Regions from separate parts of the Homo sapiens genome. Here region 2 is linked to region 1. The links come from fine-mapping of genetic effects on gene expression. A gene starts in region 1. The other region holds a variant in brackets. All regions are shown on one strand. Distances are from middle to middle.

What was found.
Region 2: its variant is fine-mapped to the expression of FRMD4A in whole blood (TOPMed, PIP above 0.99).

The regions. Positions count from the first base shown.
Region 1 is chr10:14,325,774-14,336,861 of GRCh38, forward strand. FRMD4A (FERM domain containing 4A) reads right to left here and starts at 5,151. Exons shown (of 25, transcript NM_018027.5): 1 at 4,824-5,151; 2 at 4,285-4,410. The coding sequence starts at 4,329.
Region 2 is chr10:13,700,896-13,711,983 of GRCh38, forward strand. It overlaps FRMD4A (FERM domain containing 4A), which reads right to left. Exons shown (of 25, transcript NM_018027.5): 13 at 6,142-6,218; 14 at 445-583. It overlaps LOC124902379 (a long non-coding RNA gene), which reads left to right and starts at 6,671. Exons shown (of 2, transcript XR_007062061.1): 1 at 6,671-6,757; 2 at 6,860-7,515. LOC105376426 (a long non-coding RNA gene) reads left to right here and starts at 9,593. Exons shown (of 4, transcript XR_001747371.2): 1 at 9,593-9,759; 2 at 11,027-11,088. RefSeq lists enhancers at 6,607-7,342, 6,751-6,800, 6,831-6,880, 6,951-7,010, 10,809-11,088. The variant G/C (reference allele first, on the strand shown) is at 6,260.

The DNA of each region.
Region 1 (11,088 bases):
AGGAGGAAAATGGCTTAGAAAAGAATTTATAAAGAAATGAAATGAGGGAGATAAACTCATAGAACAGCAGGTTACCCATTGAAATCTATTAAACATAGACAAGGGAGCTGGTCTATTCAAAAGAAGCCCAGAAATCTGAAATCAAATATTTAGAATGGAAAGAAACTTCAGGATAATCCAATTGACATTCTTCATTCATTGTGGTTAATCACCCACTAACTTCTCTGACTTGTGAATTGAGTTTTTATACATTTAATTTTTTATGTTATAAAATATGACTCTCAGTAATTTCCTAGAAACAGAGTCTGAGAGAATAGAACCTTGAAAAAATGGCAGCTATTTCATCGATATAAAAAAATATTTTTTCTTGCTAGAGTCAAGCCAGACATCTTGAGCCAGACTTGTGGTATCCCTTTTTTATTTTACACTTCAATATGGAAAAGAACAGATGATTAACAGAAAGACAGGATTCCTCACCTGGAAACACAGAAAATGCTGACTGGTTCAGAGGGGAGCTAACTTCAGGAGCGAATCCAAAGTGTTAGAAGGTCCTAGAAGTCAAATTGTTGAGCTTTGATATGCTGTCAGAGAAAGCACTGGCTTGGGACTCAGAGGACCGAGATTTTGAGAACTTGCTTCATCAGTTTCACTTATGTGACCATTGACAGTTTCCCAAATTCTAATTATCAGATTTTTTTTGGTCTTAAAAATAGGGTCATGGATGGAATTAAATGAGATAATGTATTTAAAGACACTTCATTTATAGAAAAGCTTAATTTGCATTATTTATTATCCAGTTAATTTCCATTAAAAACTATTTTAATCTAGCTGTCCTGAAGGTGAGCCTTTATAATCTAAGAACCGAAATGGCATCATAACACCCTTGAAGCCCCTTGGTTATTCATCCTTATCCTGGCTCTAAAGATAAACTAATCCTCGGCTCTAGCATGTTCCAGCCCTTGCAGCTTTCCCTGAACTCACACGCCCTCAACAAATGACACGTAGCCAAGAGCTTCCCGCTCTACAATTAGTCACATCAATCTGAAGCCTCCTCACGGGTTGGTGAACACAGCAGTATCTTCTTTCGCTGCCTGAGATTCTTGCAAAGATGGGAGAGGCAGCTTTTCAACAGCCTAAAAGGCCATCTCCACCACCAGAATGTGTCTTCTCTCCAAGTCCCCCCTTCCGTGGTCATATGAGTGGCTCTGTCCTGTGTGGAGAGGCATCACTGCCCTCTGTGAGCTGTCCGTTGAAAGAATCAGTGAGGTCCTCCCACCTCAAGATGGTCCAGGCATGCTTACCACCTGGGACCCCTCCCAGCTGACCGCAACCCAGCCCTAGCTTGAAAAGGCCTCTGAGACACTGTTCAAAAGTCATTGGCTTTTGTCCAATGGACCAACTTAGGTTCCTGTGGGGTAGACTCCTGATGGCAGAGTATGAATGAACACTAATGATCATCCGTGTCAGCTAATAATATGAAACATATCTGCCCTAGCATAAAAGCCAGAGTGGGAACACACTCCACCATTTTCATAGCAATACTGCTCATGTGCAAGGTTGGAAATAGAGACATAACGCTAAATAAAGCCCTCGAATTGGCTATCCTGGAACTTCATCTGTACACTGTTTCTTAGAGATCTTAAATTGTGTTTAACAGAATGGAAGGGAACCTAGACATCAGAGAGCACTCTCAGTTAGCAAATGGCATCACCAAGGCAGAGAAAGGAAGGGACATTCCCAGGATCACTCAATGAGTGGCAAGGCTAGAATGGAGCACAGGGCTGTCCAACCCTCCAGACTCTGTGGCCGCTTCTGTAACCAATTAAACATGCTCTGCCCTGAAGCATTTAGCATCTAAGCTGAATGTAACCTCTGGGTGTCTCCTTATCCAAAAGCAAGGGGTGTGGCCAGATCATCTCCCCACCTACCCCTTAGCCCCGATGACTCCATAGCACAAAATCAGAACTGCAATCCACCAACCTGGTATCAGCCTCCCACAGACTGTGTGTTTATGAGCTCTGGCTCTTGCTGTTATGCCAGGCTACTTTCCTCAGTGAGCAGACACGCGATAAATACTGACAACTGATTGGCTGATGAATGAGCTCATAAATAATAATGTTTACAGCTTCCTTCCTGAACTCACAGCCAAAGCAACTCCGCTAAATGGCCTCTTTTCCTCCTTTCTTTCCTCCTCGGCTTGCTTATAAATTTTAAGATGCATCATGCAAGATGTCAGGGAAGCAATTACTTTGGGGTTTACCCTTAAAAAGGAAAAAAAATAGCACCAAAGTCCATAGGGGAAAATTTCCCTGAACTAAACATGAACCAGAAAATGTATACAGACTTTGATTACACATGGTACTCCAGGGTTCTTTAATCAAACGGTCCATCAGGGTGTCAAGAGCTCTTTCCCCTGGTTTCCAAGAGAGGAGAACACGATCCTTTTTTCCGGGCAGGAGGAGAGTGCCAGGGACAGATCTAAGGGCAGAGGCCACTGACAAATGGAAGGTGAAGTCTGAGATGTAGACACTACCAGGACAGCAGCCATAATATGTGGAAGACCCAGGACCAGAAGAGCCTGTGTGTGTGTGTGGGTGGGGGGGGGGGGTGTATAACAGCAGAAATGGATGCTATTCATTTAATTTGGATACCAAGGATTCATGCTTAGGGGCTTGGAATAAAGCAGATACACATCTTTCTTCTAAGTATAGAAGAAAGGTCCAAGTAGGAGGCTGAGACAAGCGGGTCTAACTCTCCCTAAAGATATTTTTCAAGAAAACTTTTCTCCTCTATATTAACACGATGCAGGATTTATTTCTGTTAGTGTACTAGATAATATAATATACATATGCATGTGTGTGTGTGTGTGTGTGTGTGTGTGTGTGTGCATATGTGTGCCTGTATTTCAGAGCATATAACCCAGGCTCCCAGGTTCCCAGAAGTCTCCTAGACCCCATAGATAATGCATTTTAGTGCCAGCCATCATCACGAATACTCAGTGATGGAATGAAAATTCCTATCCAGTTTATTTGACCACAGGTAGACGATGGAGGATAAAGTATCATCAGACGATAGAATTAGTAAGGGAAAGAAGTCAGGTAATGGGTAATTTCTCTGGAAACTGACAATTTCATTTCTTCTAGTCCTACTCCCCCAGTGAAATGAGAAGTCAGCAGAGGCCCATGAGATAGATTTCAGGCAATTCAACTAAATCTGTGGACCCAGTGGAATTTTGAGCAACGAAGAACCAAGATATCTGTTCCTTTTAACATGACCTGGCTTGCCACCCAGGGGGCAGGCTTCCCACTGACGGCTCTTCCAAGTCACCTCCATAAACTCATCAGGCCTTGCAAAGTTGCATTTCCCCTCCTCATTCCGAAGACACAAATCAATATACACAGAAGCACTTATGCTTGGTTCATAAAATCTCCTGTGTAAATGCTGGAAACATTTCCATGCCAAGCCTGATGCAGGCTACTTCCGACAACAGCCAGTATTACCGTGGTGTGTGGGAACCCTGGGAAAGGAGAGAGATGCAAAACCATGGCAAAAGCCACTGCTGAACCTAGTGTCAAGCCAAAAGCCAATTGGGTTGGAACAAGACAGTGCCCATGTCCTTGTGTGCTTTAATATGGTAAGAGCTAGGGCTTTCTTAATATGGTGAAAATTCCAGAGGGGCATAAGGTGAGTCAGCTGCTCACACACAGATAAATGCCTGGACAAGTCCTGCCAAGGTTGGCCATCAATGGTAGATAGGAAACAAGCTGCTCCCAACTCAGTAGCCCAAGCATCACTGAAGCCACAGTGAACCTCCTCCACCACCTCTACAGGAAAGTATGAGCAGATATATGGGCGCCTAGAAAGAAGACCCCATTCTGTCACCCCATGGGCAACAGATTCCACAGTTGCCCTGAGAAGATATCCAAAAACAAACACAATCAGCTCAATTTAGATGCAAAAGACAAGGGGGAAAGGATGCTGGGAGCTGGAGGAGGCATCCTAGCAATCTATTTCGAGGGGCTCTTAGCACCTGTTTGCAAGCACAGCTCTCAAAATAGCATTCAGCAACAAGTTTCTGAAATGGCAAATCTACAGCTTCTTTTCCCTGCAAGTGCTTTGTCATGCTGATACTCTGACCCAAGAAAGCATTTCCAAAGAGCCTGCGGGATAAAGCGGAGCAATGTTGAACATGTCTGCAGCCACTGCAGCGGCAGCAGCAGCCCACGGTGCAGGGGAGGCTGGAGTGGACGCTGCCCGGGCCCCACCTCCTGTCTGAACACTCACCATCAGCAGGCCGAGAGCTGAGTCGGGCACCAGCTGCACTGCCATGGTCTCCGATTCCCATGCACGAATCCTGCTGCCGAGTCAGTCCTCCTGGGCCCCGGGTGGCTACAGAGCATCCAAAAGCACCTGCAGAAAAAGCAGCCAAAATCCAGACTTAGGGAGCAAAAGGCTCAAGGGGAAGATAGGCCACCTTTCACACAGGGTGGGGAGGAGGTCAGGGAAGACAGGGTGGGAACTGTGCTTAGGGAGGAAAAAAAAAAAAAGAAGAAGGAAAATAGGAAGCTGCAGGTTATTTAAAAGTGAGCCCTCCCTAGCTTCGCAAAGCGGCACAGACAGGGAGACCGCATCAAACACAAACGTGAAAGCTTAGAACACGGAATGTTTAACTGCTACCTTCGCCCTGGCAGCAATTCTTCCTTTAACTGACAATTAAAATAAAACATTCCCTATTGCAGATAAATCAAGCAGCCCGAGCCACCCCCTCTCTCTGCATCTCTCAGCAATTCTGCTGCATAAACATGCTGAATGTCACAACATACCGCTCGCAATCTGGTCAGTGTCTTCTTTGCTGCAGATAGGTGTGTCCCTTTTTGCAAAATCAGATATCTGGGAGTGAGACAGCCGAGTCTGACCATGAGGCACCAGGCAGTCACTGGAGATCAGCAAATGCCCTTACCATCCCCGAGGAGGAAGTCACTTAGGAACTGACCCTTCCACCTTCCCCAGATCTACTTTTCCTCTCCAAGTAGACTGGCCAGCTCAGCTCCCGGTAGGGCTAACATACTTAAGAGGAACATGGAATTGCACTGCCTGTTCTGTGAGCGTTCTGATCTCCCTGGCTGTACCACATGTACGCCGCATACAGACACACTCTACCTCTCTCTCCCTCCCTTCCTCCCGCCCTTCCTCCCTCCCATCCCTTCCCTCCCATCTCTCCACAGGGCTGCCTGTTAGGAATTTTGAAGGAGCCTCCCTAGTTCAGGGAGGCATAGGAGGTGAATTTGTCACAAGGGACACTGCTTAACAGGAAAAGGCAAGTTAGCCTTGAAAATCATATCATGCAGCATTTTCCCCGGAAGATGTCAATGAAGGGAGAAAGAAAAAACCTGCCGAATCTTGTTATATAATGGGTAGCTCAAAGGGCTTTCCAGAGTCAAAGACTTAAGAAAATTAGATATCTTTTCATGAGCACTGTCAAGCTTGTATCTTCTTCTGGAGTCCATGTATTCAACTAAAAATGGTTATTCCTGATACTTCTAGTATGTCCTTTTCTGATTTCTTCCTTTACTCACCTCCTGTAATGGCTCCAAAAAATCCTGAAAATTAACTAGACAGTGTGAAATGTAGAAACATAGAGAACAGTTTTCGAAATAAGAAACTAGGGGGAAGAAATTAATGACCTTTCATGTTCCTGTGCACGAGCATAGCTACTGTTCCTTTATTACTTATACTTTTAAAACTATTGATTTGGGCCAGGTATGGGAGCTCACACCTGCATTCCCAGCACTTCTGGGGGTTGAGGCAGGAAGATAGCTTGAGACCCAAAATTCAGGGTGAGCCTAGGCAACATAGCAAGACTTCATCTCTACAAAAAAAAAAAAAAAAAAGAAAAATAGAAATAAAAGAATTAGCCAAGCATGGTAGTGTGTGCCTAGAGTCTCAGCTACTTGGGAGGCTGAGGTGGGAGGATCAGTTCAGTCCAGGAGTTTAAGGCTGAAGGGAGCTATGACTGCACTCCTGCAATCCAGCCTGGGGGACAGAGCAAGACTCTGTCTCTAAAAAAATTTAAAAATAAAAAGTATTTGCTCATCACAGTGCTTAGCACAGAGTAAGTACTAAAATATATTCAATAAATGAGTGAAGGCTGGGTGCAATGGCTCACGCCTGTAGCCCCAGTACTTTGGGAGGCTGACGTGGGCAGATCACCTATGGTCAAGAGTTCAAGACCAGCCTGGTCAAGAGTTCAAGACCAGCCTGGTCAACATGGCAAAACCCTGTTCTATGAAAAACACAAAAATTAGCCGGGTGCGGTGGGCACCCGTGTTCCTAGATACTTGGGATACTGAGACAGGAGAATCGTTTGAACCTGGGAGGTAGAGGTTGCACTGTGGTGAGATCGCACCACTGCACTCCAGCCTGGGCAACAGAGCAAGGCTCTGTCTCAAAATAAAAAAAAAAAGAAAAGAAAAGAATAAAACAAAATAAAATAAGTGAGTGAAAAATTTTCTCCCATTTTGTTTTTCCTATAGTGGCCCAATGAGCTTGAACCTTGATTCCACAGTGTGTGGATGGAGTCTCATGTTACTGATCCCCGGAACACCAGAGCAACCCTCCTTGCCAGCAGGTGCCTGGAGATTCAAAGCATGACTTGAGTCGCATGCATGTGGCCTTGCACAGAACTGTCAGGACATTCTGACTGTGCTGGTGGATTGCAATACTATTCAAAATAATATGTATAGTCACATTTGAAAAATAATAACAATGATTTAAGGAACAGGTCTATAATAGTGATTTAAGGGACCTTATCCTAACTTTTCAGATGGATTTCTAAATGTATTCAACTGATATTTGCAGAATGCCGACTTTGTACCTCTGCCCTCAAGGAACTTTTTATCTGGTAGAATCATTAATGATACAAGATAATATGTAAGAAATGCAAAAAAAAAAATCCCAAATAGTTTGGATAGCACAGAGTAGGGAGGGCTTACCATTTCTTTTTTTTGTAGCTTTTGCACTGGAACTTCAGGAACAGCAGAACATCTTTTTCAGGACATTTGCTTTCTGATTCTACATGGACTATGTGTTTGGAAAATAACCAAAGCTAAGAAAAAACGTTAATATTGGAGCTATTGCAACTGGTGGATATGGGCAGAGAAAAGACAAACCCTGAGGAGAGACAGGCAGGAGCAGCCTCAGGTATGGGACAGTCTGGGACATCCTTAGGTTGCAGAGGCCGGCCTGAGAGATTTTGTGTCAGCCCTTGACGTTGGCCCCCAGAACACCCGCCTTCCTCTCTCAGCACTTCACTCATGGCTCCTTTGCCTGGAAAGCCTCATCCCCTGTCTGCTTGAATTGCAGCCCAGATTTTCTGGAAAATAGCCTGCAGCAAATCTTCTGCAAGAAGACATCATTGGGAGGTGCAATTTCAGGGTGGCAAGAGTGGGGGTGTGGGGAAGGTGAGGCAGGGATGGAATGAGAGCAGGTACAAGGTGGGGTTGACCAAAGTGGGCATAGGACAGCTACTCAGTCCTGAGGAAGAGCTTCCAGACAGGTATGGAACTTCCAGTTTTTGGCATAACCCATCAAGGAGACGAAGGGAGAGGGAGCTAACAGCCTAGTGCTGTCCATTAGTTGACTCTTTTTGGTCAAATTGATTCCATCAGACATTAACCCTCTTGCGCTTCAGGGTTATGTTACCAACTCCCGCAGGTAGGCATGAAAGGCATTGCATCTGAGCCCAGAAGATAAGGAAGAAACCATAGCCTCTGTGAGTCAGTCAGACAGGACCTGGGCCCTGGGGTGGTGAGGCTCCTGCCTCAGTGTGTGGGATGGAAACCCTCCCTGTTCTGTCCTGGGAGGCTAGGACAGCTAGCAGTGCCAGGAATTGAAATGACAATGGCAGCACCTGGGATTCCCAATGAGCAAGTGGCTCAATTTGCCCAGGGAAGACAGGAGGAGCCAAGTAAATCTGGGAAACACATACACTGAGTCTGGTAACAGCATATACGTTCACACAACATTCAGTGTCAAAAGTTGCATACTTCATGAAATTCTTCCCAATTCCTCTATTTGGGCATTCATAGTTGCTTTGTTTGTACAACTTTTAAATTCCTTCTTTAAAAAAATTGGCAGTGATTTGCTTTTCTCTAGTATCCCCCTACTAGAGAGGAACAAACTAATTTCGGAACTGAGCATTGCTCTTCTCTGTTTACTTCTACAGCTCCAAGCATCGAGCTCAAACAGCAGCCCATGCTCAATAAGATTAAATCAGGCACCAATGGAGATATCAAAATGTAAAGCGCAAAGAGGAAGAGGCAATGGCAAGACCTCAGGGAGTGGATAGGACATGGGGAGTTTGTGAGGACAGGTCACAGGCTGATGGAGAAGGAGTTGTCAAAGGAGGAAAAGGAGAAGAGAGCTCCCAAATTCGAGTGGCAATGGTCATTCCACAAAGATGCCTGGGTGGGGTGGAAGGGTGTTTCAGTACAGTTTCGGACACAGAAATCGAACTGCAAGGGGTTATCGAGCAGCTTGTGAGGAAGAGAAGTTAATTCATATTAAATAGGCCCTCATCAAAAAGCAGTGGAATATGAGCTATCCAGGTCCTTTCAAGAACTAGTTCAAGGTCACAGAAGGAAGAAGGTGTGGGGACAGCAATCCCATCCTCTGAGTCACTAAACTCGATTCTTGGTTAATCTTACCTCCCAAGAAAGCTATATATATATGAAATCCATTTCAATGTATCCTCCTTTAAAAACTCCTCAAATGAAGCATAGTTCAATGTCACACCCATCGCAAAAAACAGCTCTTCATAAACCTCTTCTGGGCCAGGTGCAGTGGCTCATGCCTGTGATCCCAGCACTTTGGGCGGCTGAGGTGGGTGGATCACCTGAGGTCAGGAGTTTGAAACCAGCCTAGCCAACATGGCGAAACCCCTTCCCTACCAAAAATACAAAAATTAGCTGGGCATGGTAGCACGTGCCTGGAGTCCCACCTACTTGGGAAGCTGAGGCAGGAGAATCCTTTGGAGGAAGGTGGGAGGTGGAGGTTGCAGTGAGCCAAGTTTGCACCAATGCACTCCAGCCTGGGACACAGAGTGAGACTGTATCTCAAAACAAACAAACAAATACTCTTCTGTATTTAGCGTGAAGCTGTTGTTCAGACATTGGCCATGAGACCACCCACTGCCATCTATATAAGTTGCCCCAGGTGAGAAATTCCTCTCAGAATCTAGTACAAAGGAAAATGTCATTATCCTGAAAGAGCCTGTGGTGTGGGTGGCTTTGGCCCCAGAACACCTGCCAGGCCATTTTACTCTCAGGAATCTGAAGGCTTATTCTGTCATTTTCTCTAGGATCCCGAGCAAGAATTACAAGGGTGAGGTGAGACTCAAAGAAAGTATTATTTATTAGAGATTTTCTTAAGTTGCACATAGTAGACATTCAATAACTGTGAGTTCTCTTTTGGTCCCCTTTTAATTCTGATAATGAGAATAGTGTACCTAATCACACTTGGCACACTGGACTTCCAGAATGCCCAAAATCTAATTTTACTTTCAATGACAGCAGATACTATCATAACTGGCATTATTACTTCCTTCTTTTCTTTCAATCTTATTTTTCCTTCTAATGCATACTCTATTACTCTTATTGAGTAGGCCTTTTTGTCAGTAAGCCATCTGAAATTCATTTTTAGTAAGAGATGGGACATAAATCACTCATTAATGTATACACTGTGCTCAAGTAGATTTGGCACACTGTGAAATATTTTGCAGCTATTAAAATGGCAATTATGAAACTATTTAGAAGTATTGCAAATGTCTGAGATATGTTTATTTGCAAGTAATATGAGACATATTCTCTAATTGCAACCATGTAAATATTTGTATTTTAAGAATATGTGAAGAACTCCTGCTTCTATCCAAGATGGAATTAGAGGGAGCAAGTCTACACTTCACATGAAACAAACAAAAAATGTAAAATATACGGAACAATACTTTTCAAGTTAATGGACATAAGACAACAAATGCCAGTGATCCATGAAAGATAAGAAACAAATTAGAGAAGCCTTACAATTGTCCCAGGTTATTGAATCAAGAGTATTTCCAGGCTACGGAACCGAGAGTGGAGCTACGTGGAATCAAGTGTTCTCCAGAGTCATGGAGACAGAGCTGAGAGTCAGGAAAGATTGGGATGAACACAGTTCACAAGACAGAGCACCAAAGAGAAGACAGGTGTAAAGAGAAAGAGAACTTCTGAGATCTTCAAAGAGTCCCCATGAGCACTCAGTTGAGTGCTGATCACCACATACATGTGGGGAAGCCACTCAAGGCTGGGGAAAGAACCACATAAAAAGATTGGAAAGAATGGTGACCAGTGCTCACCCAGGGCCAGAACAGTGTCTGCTCACATCCGCCAGACTGGAGAACTTCATAATTCCTAATACATTATTAGAACACTCAGATGGCTCTTGCCTCAACAGTGAGAAATAATTGGTCATAGATTGATCACTGTCCTGAATCTGCCTAACCATTCTGAAAAGTAAGACCCAAAAGGATTAAACTATTTCCACGTAACTTAACTGGATTCCAAACAAACTTAAAGAACATTTATAAAATTACAAAAATATCCAACTCTCAATGAGGTTAAATCTATAATGTAAATTTACATTGTGTATAATTTACATGTAGATTTATAAACTAGAATGTCATCTGATAAAAATTACCATGTACGAAGAAAGTAGGAAGATATGGTCACTAAATAGAAAACAAATCAATCAAAATCATCCAGAATGAACATAGATGTTAGAGTCAGCAGAAAATATTAAAACAATTATTATTGTTTAAATAACATTAATTATTAAAACAATTTTGAATATATTGTATTCAATATATTCAAAAAGTTAATTAGAAACATGGAAAATATTTAAAAATTCGAAGAACAAAATAAGCATCAGTCAGCTATAGGACATCTTCAAGTAGCCTGATAGATATATCATTTGTATCCTTGAAAAAAGAGACACACAGAAAATTGAGTTGAAGAAATAATAGCCAACATGTTCACAGATTATATGCTGAACAAATTC
Region 2 (11,088 bases), 620 kb before region 1:
ACCGCCTGAGGGTTTTCACAGCAATTACCCTAAACAGTTAGGTGGTGTCTATTCGTTGAGAAAGATTCCTTTTTTCTTTTCAAAAGGAAGATAGTATACCACTGTTTAAACACCAAAAAGGGCTTGCCTTCACGCTGCTAGAGGATTCTCCCGAGGGCCAAAAGCACAGTGGGAATTCCTCAAAAGGGGCCTACCTGGCTGCAGTCAGCGGCTTGAGCGGCTCTGATGGTGGTCAGAGCCCCCTGGACCAAGATGCATGGAATGTGCCCTCTTGAAGAGCTAGTCTCATCCCTCCCATCTGTAGCCCTAAGAGGCAAGCCTGTATCTGTGCAAGGTATGGACCCGGGCAAGGGACATGGCGCCTCCCCCACCCATCCGATCCTCATTCCTAAACTAAGAGAGGCAGACAATGGCCCGGGCTTGGTGAGAGGTCTGGTCACTCACCTTACTCTGCTTTCTGTCCAGATAGAACTGGTGTTGGCTTATGGCCATAGCCCAGATGGACTTGATCAATGCCGGACATGCATACCACGTGTGCACTGCAATGCCGCTGTGCCCAAACGTCCTCCTTGTCACTGAAGCCCTGGGGAAGCAAGAATCACAAGGTTCAATCCCATTTCTGTTGAGAGAAACCATTTCTCAGTCAACAGCTTCTGTAGAGAACCCACTGCGTCCTAGAAGCCCTGGCGTAAAGATGATAGATGAGCTCTCACATACACCTAGGCGTACACACACACACATGCGCACACAGCTTACAGACATCATTGGCTGGGCAAAGGCCACCTTCTGATTTTCTGACTCCCTAGAGTTCAGAATCTGGCCAAGCCTCGGCCTTGTCTGGGATAAGATGGGTCATTCTAGGTCAATGGATGGTCCTTTTTCGATCCTGGACTTGGCACTGGGCCAAGACAAACTTCGCAGACAGGAAAACCTTCAATGATGCTCCCTATGAGACAGGAAATGTGCCTACGGTGGGGATGAGTAAATTATTTTCTAATCACCACAGGCTACAGCGTCCCAGGGAATTGGGACTTCTTATATAACTAACCCAATGTTCCTTGAAGATTTGGTGATCAATTTCCAATCTATTCAGAGGGCAGGGAGGGTATAAAGAATCAGGAGAAGAAAGGCAGAGAGAAATGTGCCCAGCCCCAATTCCCCCAACGTCTGTCGATACATTTCATTTATATTTTTCAGATGGAGTCTTGCCCTGTCACCCAGGCTGGAGCGTGCTGGCAAGATCTCAGCTCACTGCAACCTCCACCTCCCAGGTTCAACCAATTCTCCTGCTTCAGCCTTCTAAGTAGCTGGGATGACAGATGCCCCCCACCACTCCGGGCTACTTTTTTGTATTTTTAGTAGAGACAGGGTTTCATCAGGCTGGTCTCTAACTCCCGGCCTCAGGTGATCCACCTGCCTCGGCCTCCCAAAGTGCTCGGATTACAGGCATGAGCCACCGCACCTGGCCCTGTCTATACATTTTTAAATCTACATGGAGTAATCAGACTTTAAAAGTGAAAACGGGAACTGTTCATCTCCACATTCATGGAGTTAGGGGGAGTTATATGGTCATGCTCTTAGTGAAGTATATTTTATAGGATAGGCAGATTATTTTGCAAATGAAATCTAAGAATGTGTGTTTGCATGTGTGTGTGTGTGTGTGTGTGTGTGTGCGCATGCATGTGAGACAAGTTGACAGGAAGGTGGGCTGGGATTTGGGGCATTTTACATGGACATCAGAAACAAAATGTATGTTCTCAAGACTAACATATCTAATTTGGAAGAAACCTGGGGGTAATCAGGACTTACAAACAATAACATTTTTTTTCATGGCTAATTTTCCCTTAAAGAAAACAAAGCTGCCAGCAATATCTTACTTTGGGCGGGGGTCGGGGGTGCTAAAGATTTAAAGTGGAGTCTTGTTCACCCTCACTTTTAAGGAGAAATTCAGATCCGGTGGTTAATGTTACTGAGTCCACACAGGTTTTTTCTCCCTTCGGTTCCAACAAAAGTGAAGGAAAAAAAAAAAAAAAAAAGCCAGAGCGTGAAAGAGCACACAGTTGAAAATAATTGAAAAAAGGAGCCAGGGAGAGAGCGAGGGGGAGATCCCTCGCCAGTCTCTCTAAATTTAAAAGAAAACAGGGATCTGTGCTCCCAGCTTGGCTTCCATAGCAGTTCTTGCTCTTGGAAATAAATGAATGACTTTTTTTTCCCCCCAGAAAAGCTGAATTAGACAAGAACAGTATCTTGAAAGGTGGTGCAAGGCTAGGTACCTCCATTTCTCAGGTACCGGGAGGGCAGAAGAGGTAAGTGGCTGGTCAGGTCCGGGTAGTTCCCCGGAGCATCTAAATCAGATACTCAGAGTTCTTCTCCTGCTCTATCATTACTTTATCTCCTCTCCTCATCTTTCGCTTCAAGCCCTTCCTATTTTACCCAAACCGTAGAAGTGAAATATTGGCCCAGCCTGGAGAAGCTCAGAAATGAAGCTAAGCATTGAGTTAGGATGCCCAGGGGGAGAAAGTGCACAGTGTTGTCCAGTGCCCCACAGGGAATGGTGCAATCACACCTGAGCCCATCGGCCCAGAAAGCAGCCTCTGCCCTGAATCATTCCCATCGATTACATCTTCATTAAATGACCGTATCTGGCGTTGCCCATCCTATTACTGCAGTTCTGACTGCCTTCCTGGCTTGGGGGAGGGGCTGAGCCCGGAACACCAAACTAACGTGAGGCCAATCACATTCCTCTTCCCTACCTCAAATAAGCAAGGCCACAAGCAATAGGATGACACATTCAACTTAAAAAGCACCGCGAGGTTCACTTCAAAGTAACTGGAAGAGAGGACTTGCAATGATACCAACATAAAAATAGTAAACACTGAGGCGGGTGGATCACGAGGTCAAGAGATTGAGACCATCCTGGCCAACGTGATGAAATCCCATCTCTACTAAAAATAAAAAAATTAGCTGGGTGTAGTGGCGCACGCCTGTAGTCCCAGCTACTTGGGAGGCTGAGGCAGGAGAATTGCTTGAACCTGGAAGGTGGAGGGTGCAGTGAGCCGAGATGGCGCCACTGCATTCCAGCCTGGGGACAAAGTGAGACTCTGTCTCAAAAAACAAAACAAACAAACAAACAAAAAAACACTCAAGGCCATGGATACCCCACGTACCCTGCCTTGATCATTCCATGTTCTATGCATGTAACGCACTCACACGTGGCTCATGAATACGTGAAATAGTAACTCTCAATACAAGAGAAAAAAGGCACCACTAGGATGTGAAAAAGAGAACTGAGTGCAAGAAAGATCTTACAGCTCATAGCTCTGGCTCTGCCATGCTAAATAACTGACCTGAAGCCATTTCCTTTCCTTGTGTGTCTTTAATGCTGAAGTCATCCCGGGTCTCCACCTCTGGCCTCCCTGGGCCTCTCCCCCATTCCTGCCTGTCTGCAGGCTAACTCAGTGTACTCAGAGCGAGTTTGCCTGGGACGAGACAGCTCTGCTTCTTCCTCTGGGCTCCTCCAACTCCCACTTCCCTCCAGCCAGACCCTCCCTCATTTGTTTATCCTAATTGAGAAGCCCCCACCTGACATCTATATCCCCCTGAGGCCCTACCACGTGGCTTTAATCCTAGTTACCCCTCCAGGTCCAACTCAGACCTCTCCTTCCTGGTAAGCCTCTCCCTTCCTGACCAGCCAGGCCTCTGGTGACCCTGTCCTTCACCCTTCATGGCCCACGACGTCTGGCCCTTCTGTACAGTATAGAGATAAAGGGCATGAGCTCTGGAGCCAGACCTCCTAGGTTCAAATCCTGCCTCTCCTGTATACTAGCTACTTGTCGTCTAGAGCAGGTTTCTTTGTTTCTTGTGACACTCCATGAGTTCCTTCTTCTCAGCCAGGTTCCAGGCAGTGGCTCACGCCTGTAATCCCAGCACTTTGAGAGGCCAAGATGGGAGGATTGCTTGAGCTTGGGAATTTGAGACCAGCCTGGGCAACACTGTGAGACCCAGTCTCTCCAAAAAAAAAAAAAAGCTGGGTACGGTGGTGTGTACCTATAGTCCCAGCTACTCGGGAGGCTGAGGCTGAGGTGGGAGAATTGCTTGAGCCTGGAAGGTGGAGGCTGCAGTGAGCTATGATTGCACCACTGCATTCCAGCATGGGCGACAGAATGAGACCGTGTCTCAAAATAAAAGTTCCTTCTTCTGCCTGTCTTCTCAGTTACACTAGAAGATCTTTAAGGAAGAAGACCCTGCCTCCGACTTCCTTCCTTCCCCGCCACAGCACCCGACAAGGACACAGAAGCTTCGCAAGAAACATGACATTGATCACTGCTGTCTAATAGGCGACAGGCCCACTGAATAGTCACGTGTGAGATCTAGATTCTTTCCTATATCCCTGGGCTTTGGTAAAGAGAGTTTAGCAGTACTCACCAATAGGGCGACAGACGCACAGAGAACACGAACACACATGTGCAGATATATGCGTGCGTGGTTAAAGGATTTGTCCAAGGTGCCTGGGTGTTCACTGAATTCCCAGCAGAGCACAGGCATGGCGGAGGGTCTATTCCCTGCGCTCAGCCCCTTAGATTACCCAGCCCCTCATTTTTATCCTATGGAGCATCCCCTTTCTGCATCTGACCCATTGTGGCAAAGTTCATTTCACTCTTTCTGTACTTAAATTTCCCCTCTCTTACATGCCTAAGAACCTGGTCCAATTCAGTTCACCTGGAAAATGAACAGTGAGTTTCTTCTTGGCTGGAATCTTATTTTTGAAATCTCCCCGCCCACCCCACTTGGCCTGCACAGATGGATCTGTGCTCCATGGAGTGGGGCTTCTGGCCGCGAAACCCCTTGCAGGGCCCTGAGAAACACCGGATAAAATATTTTTCTGTTAAAGGCTACCATTTTCACCTGACTGTGGAGATGCAGAAACTCTCAGCTGCTCTCCACTAACTATTCCTGTAGTAACCGTGGTGCTGAGATAAGCTCTTGCCCTACACAGGAGTGGCTGTTTCAGGCAGATTACCCTGGAGGGCAAGCACGGCTTCATTCCTACCGGGTTATCATGGGCTGCAGGAACAGGGGCTACTGCACAGGTCCAAGCCCTCTCACTGGGCGGGGTAACTCCAAATCTCCCTCCTGTCCAGAGCTCATGGGGAGGGACTGCAGCTTGTTTTGAGCATCAGAAGCCATGTGTGAGCTGGAATTGGTGCCAAGTCCTCCTTCTAAGCCCAGGGCTGGAGCGTCAACAGCGCCTAAAACCCACTTTTGCTCCTCTGTAGAGTCTGATCTTTTTTCTGTCTCCCTGGGGCTACCTTCTTATTGTAAATGTCTCTGACCTTATGGAAAGTGATTTCTTAGTTGTCAGGCCTGGTTTTAGGGAATTACGCTGCTGTTTTTGGGGATGCATATAACTTTAGGTCCAGCGGCAGACAAAGAGAGGAAAACAGTGGGTATGAGCTGCCCAGACCCCAGCCACCTGGGGCTCCCTGCATTCCAACCTGGGGCCCCACTGTCTTGCATCTGACTTAAGAGTACAGGGACTTTTTACAACCCTGGTGCTCTCTGGGGTACGATTTTGGGTGGAGGGAAAAATAATTTCATTTCTTTCACATCCACCCACAATACTAACATCCTAAAATTACAGCTCCTGGAATAAAACAACGTAGCACAACTGCTTTGGTGACAAATTCATTTTCGCATTGACCGTCCTGCCTGAAATACTTTTAGAAGCTCTAATGAGGGATTCTTCAGACTCTTCTATAGCAAAAGTTTCCTATGGGGACTTACTGGTGTGTGTTACAAAGTGCTATAAAGCTTCCTTCCAGTGCCCCGGCAGGTAAGACAAACACATACACTGACACACACACACACACACACACACACACACGAGCCAGGGACACATGTGGCCAGATGAGACAGTCAGGGGATTGCTACTTACACACACGTGCGAACCCACTGCATTTATCAACACATGTAATTGAAAAGAAAGTTTCACTGTCTGATTTGAGCTCCATTCCCCAGGAGCCCCCACCCTCGCTCCCTGCTCCAAACTGACCATGAACAACGACAGCCCCAAAATAATATCCATAACACGCCCGGCCGAGAGCCACGCCATCCCGCAAGAAAAGGACTTTTCAAGCTTACCTGCGTGGGTCATGAACTTCCACGGAAAACTTCTTTTCTCTGAAGTACAGGTTTTCCAACTGTCTCCATTGGAATATCTGGACAGAAAACAGTGTAGTTTAAAACTCAGGAGGGGCTG[G/C]CTCCTGGGCCATCTTCCCCTCTCTGCTGGTTAACTTTCGACAGCTGGCAGTTTCCTTATCAAAACAGAGACCGTAGTCTGTGCCTCCTCCGCCTCTTGCTTGACACACACACACACATACACACACACACGCAGCTCTCCAGTTCAAAACCAGGCAATGTGGGTGTGGATTTTCCTGCAGGTTCCTTAACTGGAACAAAACAAGTTCTTTTCAAGTTCTCCGCCTTCGGTCGGCCTTTGTTGGTTTGGTCGTGGCAGTCCCCAGCTTGGCAGACTTTTCCCTTCCAGGAGAGGGAGGAGAGGTGGAGACCGGGGAGAGGGACCCAGCAGGGAAGGCGGCGGGTGAGGGGAGAGGAGCGAGAGGAGCGAGCGCTCAGGAGGGAGCGGTAGCCATCTGCGTGGAGTGCTGAACTGAGCTTCCTCCCCTCCAGTGCTGAAATGGGAAGGCGTTCAAATTCCCAGCCTCCCATCGGGACTCCACTTCCTGCTCACTAATGTGTAAGAGCCTTGCAAAGGGCGGAGGAGGCTGGGACCTTATTTCGGGGGCAGGCAACTCAAGATCACAGTGTGAGCCTGTCAAGCCCATTCTTCTTGCTGCAGCACAAAGAAAACCAAGAGTTCTGTCGCCCGGAAGGACGCTGCGGCCAGAGTCTCTCCCTCAAGCTTGGCCAGGGAGGGTGAGAAGTGGAATGAAGGGGCCCTGGCGGTCATTCCTCCTTCGGACCAGTGAGCTCGTTAACTGAGAAGCTGACTGTAATGTTTGGAAGTAATTAGGGCTGCATCCAATTGCTCCAGGAACGGGGTTCCTTTCATTGGATGAAAAAGAAAGTTACTTTAACCCTCTGGGAAATATCACAGGAGGTTCAACTTGTGTGCACACACATTTGCATTAATATTTGCTGGTTACTGCATCACCTTCCACATACTGGGAATTTCGGTTTATTTTGCGGAAAGAAGGGGTAAAGTAGGAATCTTGTTCTTGTCTTTCTGCGGGGAACAGCTTCCCTGGGCTCCCCCCTTTCTCTGGCCACTGAGTTAAATGCTTTTCAGGGTCTTACCCCAGAGTCCTCGGACCTCAGGCTCCTGACCCTCTCTGACCTGCTCATGTTCTGCCCACCTTAGAGACGTGATGGCCATTTCCTGTATCTGACCCACCCTGTCTTCCCAGGCTGGGGACACTGCTAGTCAATGGTTGGCTAGTGGACCTAGCACCCCATATAAAACTGGGCTGGAATAAAAACTGCTTCTGGAATGGCCACATTCTTTTATCCTCACAATCTGCTCTCTGGAATTTTACAATTATTTTGTCTGCGTTAAGTACTGGGAAGGAGAATATCTATTATCTCTTATTACAGAGTTGCCTCTTTTGTCCCCGGCTCAGAGTGCATTTCACTCTGAAGCCCAAGGAAATTGTATTTTTCTTTCTTGTTAAGCATCAACTCCAGGTGGGTGGAGAGACACTGCAAGGAAAGCAAATGGCCCAAAGCTCTATGTTGGCTGACAGCTTTGTGTCAGAGATTCAACAGCGCCTTAGCGGAGTCTATTACTAAAATACACAGACCCAGGTCTCATGGTCCTGTCTGATGCTTGGCCACTATAAATCCTTCCATTAAAACACCCAAATTTCCTCTCTGGTCCCCAGGTATTATATATTCAGCGACATTCCACCTGAACTTAGCCAGAGCTACAAAAATACCAGAATGAACAGGTTCCACGACATTGGCCTCATAGCCTGGGGGCAGTACACTGAGCAAAGCGGTCAGGCAGGCAGGCTTTGTGGTCTGACTACATCTGTTTGAATCCAAGCTCCACTACTTTTTTTTTCTGAGACAGACTCTCACTGTGTCCCCCAGGCTGGAGTGCAGTGTCACGATCTCGGCTCACTGCAACCTCTGCCTCTCGGGTTCAAGCGATTCTTGTGCCTCAACCTTCCAAGTAGCTGGGATTACAGGACTATGCCACCACACCTGGATAATTTTTGTATTTTTTAGTAGAGATGGGGTTTTGCCATGTTGGGCAGGCTGGTCTCCAACTCCTGGGCTCAAGTGATCTGCCCGCCTCGGCCTCCCAAAATTTTGGGATTACAGGCGTGAGCCACCGCACCCAACTCAGGCTCTAAGCTGCTGGACCTGACACAAGTTACAGCATTTCCTTTAGCCTCAGTTTTCCCCTCTGTAAAATGGCAAAAATAACCCCTCTAAGGTAGATCTCAGCAGCCACAGATCGTAGCACAGTACCGGCACAAAGTGACCTTAGATCTTACTATGAATCCCAAATGCTCTTACTTCTCCCAAATCCTTGCAGATTAAAAGAGAGTAACTCCAGAACAACCAGAATCATTCTTTTCTTAGATTTCCTAACTCAAGCCCTGAGTTTTGGATTTAAAAAAAAAAATATGTGTGTGCTGCAAATCCTTAAATACAGAGAATTTTTCTCCCAGTGCCTCTCCCCTCCTCTCACGTAAGGGATGTGGATGGTACTTCAATGAAAGGGTCCTGTTGGCTGCATACCACGGCGGTCCCTCAGCCGCTATCCTGCACCCGCCTTGCTCAGGCAAAGTGAAGTCTTGAACAGGATCGGCCTTCTGGGTGTGCGACCTGAGGGCCCTTTGCTCAGAAGGTCCTTGGCTTGATTTCCTGCTCTGCTGTTGATATCTTGAAATTCCTAACAGGTTTTTTTTTCTTTCTTTATATCTTTATTCTTTTTTTTTGTCTTGTTGCTATACGCTTTTTAAAAAATTAATTTCCATAGGTTTTTGGGGAACAGGCGGTATTTGGTTAATTAGTTCCTTAGTGGTGATTTATGAGATTTTGGTGTGCCCATCCCCTGAGCAGTGTACACTGAACCCACCTAATGGGTTTGATCAAGGGGCCCTGCATTTCCATTTTGCACTGGGCCCTGCTCATTGTGGACTTGATCCTGGCCTTAGGTCCTGGCATGTACTGGTGCTGGCAGGCTCTGTGGGGTAAGGTGCCTGCCAGCCTAATGGGCAGGCCTGGGAGGTGGAACCCTCAAGCCCTCCAAGAGAAGGAAAGAAAGCAGAACCAGGTGTGAGCACGCTTGAGAAAACCCCTGTGCCTTTCATGGGAAGCCCCCCTCCCCACCCGATGAAGAACCCCAGAGCAGAATGCTCCGAGGGGTTGTTTCCCTGGCAACTCCTGTCTCCCCCATTCCATGCAAAATAAAACACAAACCAAGCTTTGCTTTAAGTGCTCCCTGATGCAGTTCAGCGTGGAGAACTGCGCGTCTGCCAAAGAGCCCGAACAAAACCATCTGGACTCTGCTGCATGGCCCCGTCTGTGGCTGCTGTAGCTGCCCGTGGGAAGGCCCTGCCTCCAGCTTCTGCCCTTGGCTGCGAACCATGGAGTCCCGGCTCCCAGGCCTATCCCCGGGATGATGCACTAGACATTTTTGTGGCAGGGTGCAGAACAATGGATTCCCCCTGATGCTTGCTTTAAGCATGAATTTTTGTTTTGCAAATGCAATCCTGGGAAGGAAGGGTAAGAGTAAAGTGAAGGGATGGGTGGTTTTCAGGATCAGATTGTTGCGTTGAGACATTAGAAGGGCCCAGGAATGGGCTGGGTATGGTGGCTCATGCCTGGAATCCCAGCACTTTGGGAGGCTGAGGTGGGCAGATCACTTGAGGTCAGGAGCTTGAGACCAGCCTGGGCCAACATAGCAAAACTCCGTCTCTGCGAAAAATACAAAATTTAGCTGGGTGTAGTGGTGGGCACCTGTAGTCCCAGCTACTTGGGAGGCTGAGACAAGAGAATCACTAGAACCCGGGAGGCAGAGGTTGCAGTGAGCCAGGATCATGCCACTGTACTCCAGCCTGGGCGACACAGCAAGGCTCCTTCTTAAAACAAACACAAAAACAAAAGGGTCCCAGGAACAGAAGAGAAGGTGTGCATGTCAGAACAGTAGCCTGATCTGACTTCTCTTCACTTAGGAGGGAGGGGGTGAGCTAGGGAGCAGGAATATGAAGGCAGTAGGGACCAGGAGGGTGGAAGCAGCTGCCCCTTGCCCAGGGCCGGGGTGCAGCTTGCTGGAAAAGCATCATTTTCTTCATGGGGTCTGGGGCATTTCTGCCCATGGGCCCTTGAGGCTTAGAAGTCCTGCCTGTTAAATACCTCACTCTGAGGCTGGCAGAGCAAACACAACAATCAAATCAACAAACAGGAGATGCTCCACCTTGCCTCCCCTTTGTAAACAGGGTAAGGTGGGCTCTGACTGAGCTGGTTTCGGGGCAGCCCCGATGGTCTGCGCCACCTCAGGGGAGCCTCCCGAGCTTGCGCTGGCTCAGTGCAGCCGTCATAACCCACCACCATGTAAAGCTGCCAACACACTCTGCCTCTCCGCATAAAAACACAGCAGGCACCCATAATGATCATCAGGATGACTGGGCCGGTTCCCTTAGGGATTTGTGTAACGCCTATGGCCAATTATATCCAAGGAGCTAATTAAAAAGCTAAAATACTTAGTTCTACCAATAATCAAAGAATGTATTAATTCATACCTATTAAATCAAGGGGTTTCTAGTGCACGTCACTTAAGCATCTTTAAAAAGCCCTGCAAACATCGTTCCTTTGATCTTTTGGCATCCCTCAAGAAGATCAAGTGGGAAATTTACTTCTTGGGTGAAACAAGGCCCAGAGAAATTAAGGAAAACTGCCTAAGGCCACACAGCAAGTAAGTGAAGGAACCAGAAATAGAAGTCAAGGGCACCTGGTCCATTACTCTAACCTCTAACTATGTTGCTTTCCCCAGGAGTCCACCAATTAGTGGGAACAGCTCTTACTGACTAATGGATGGTTAACTTTACAAGTGGA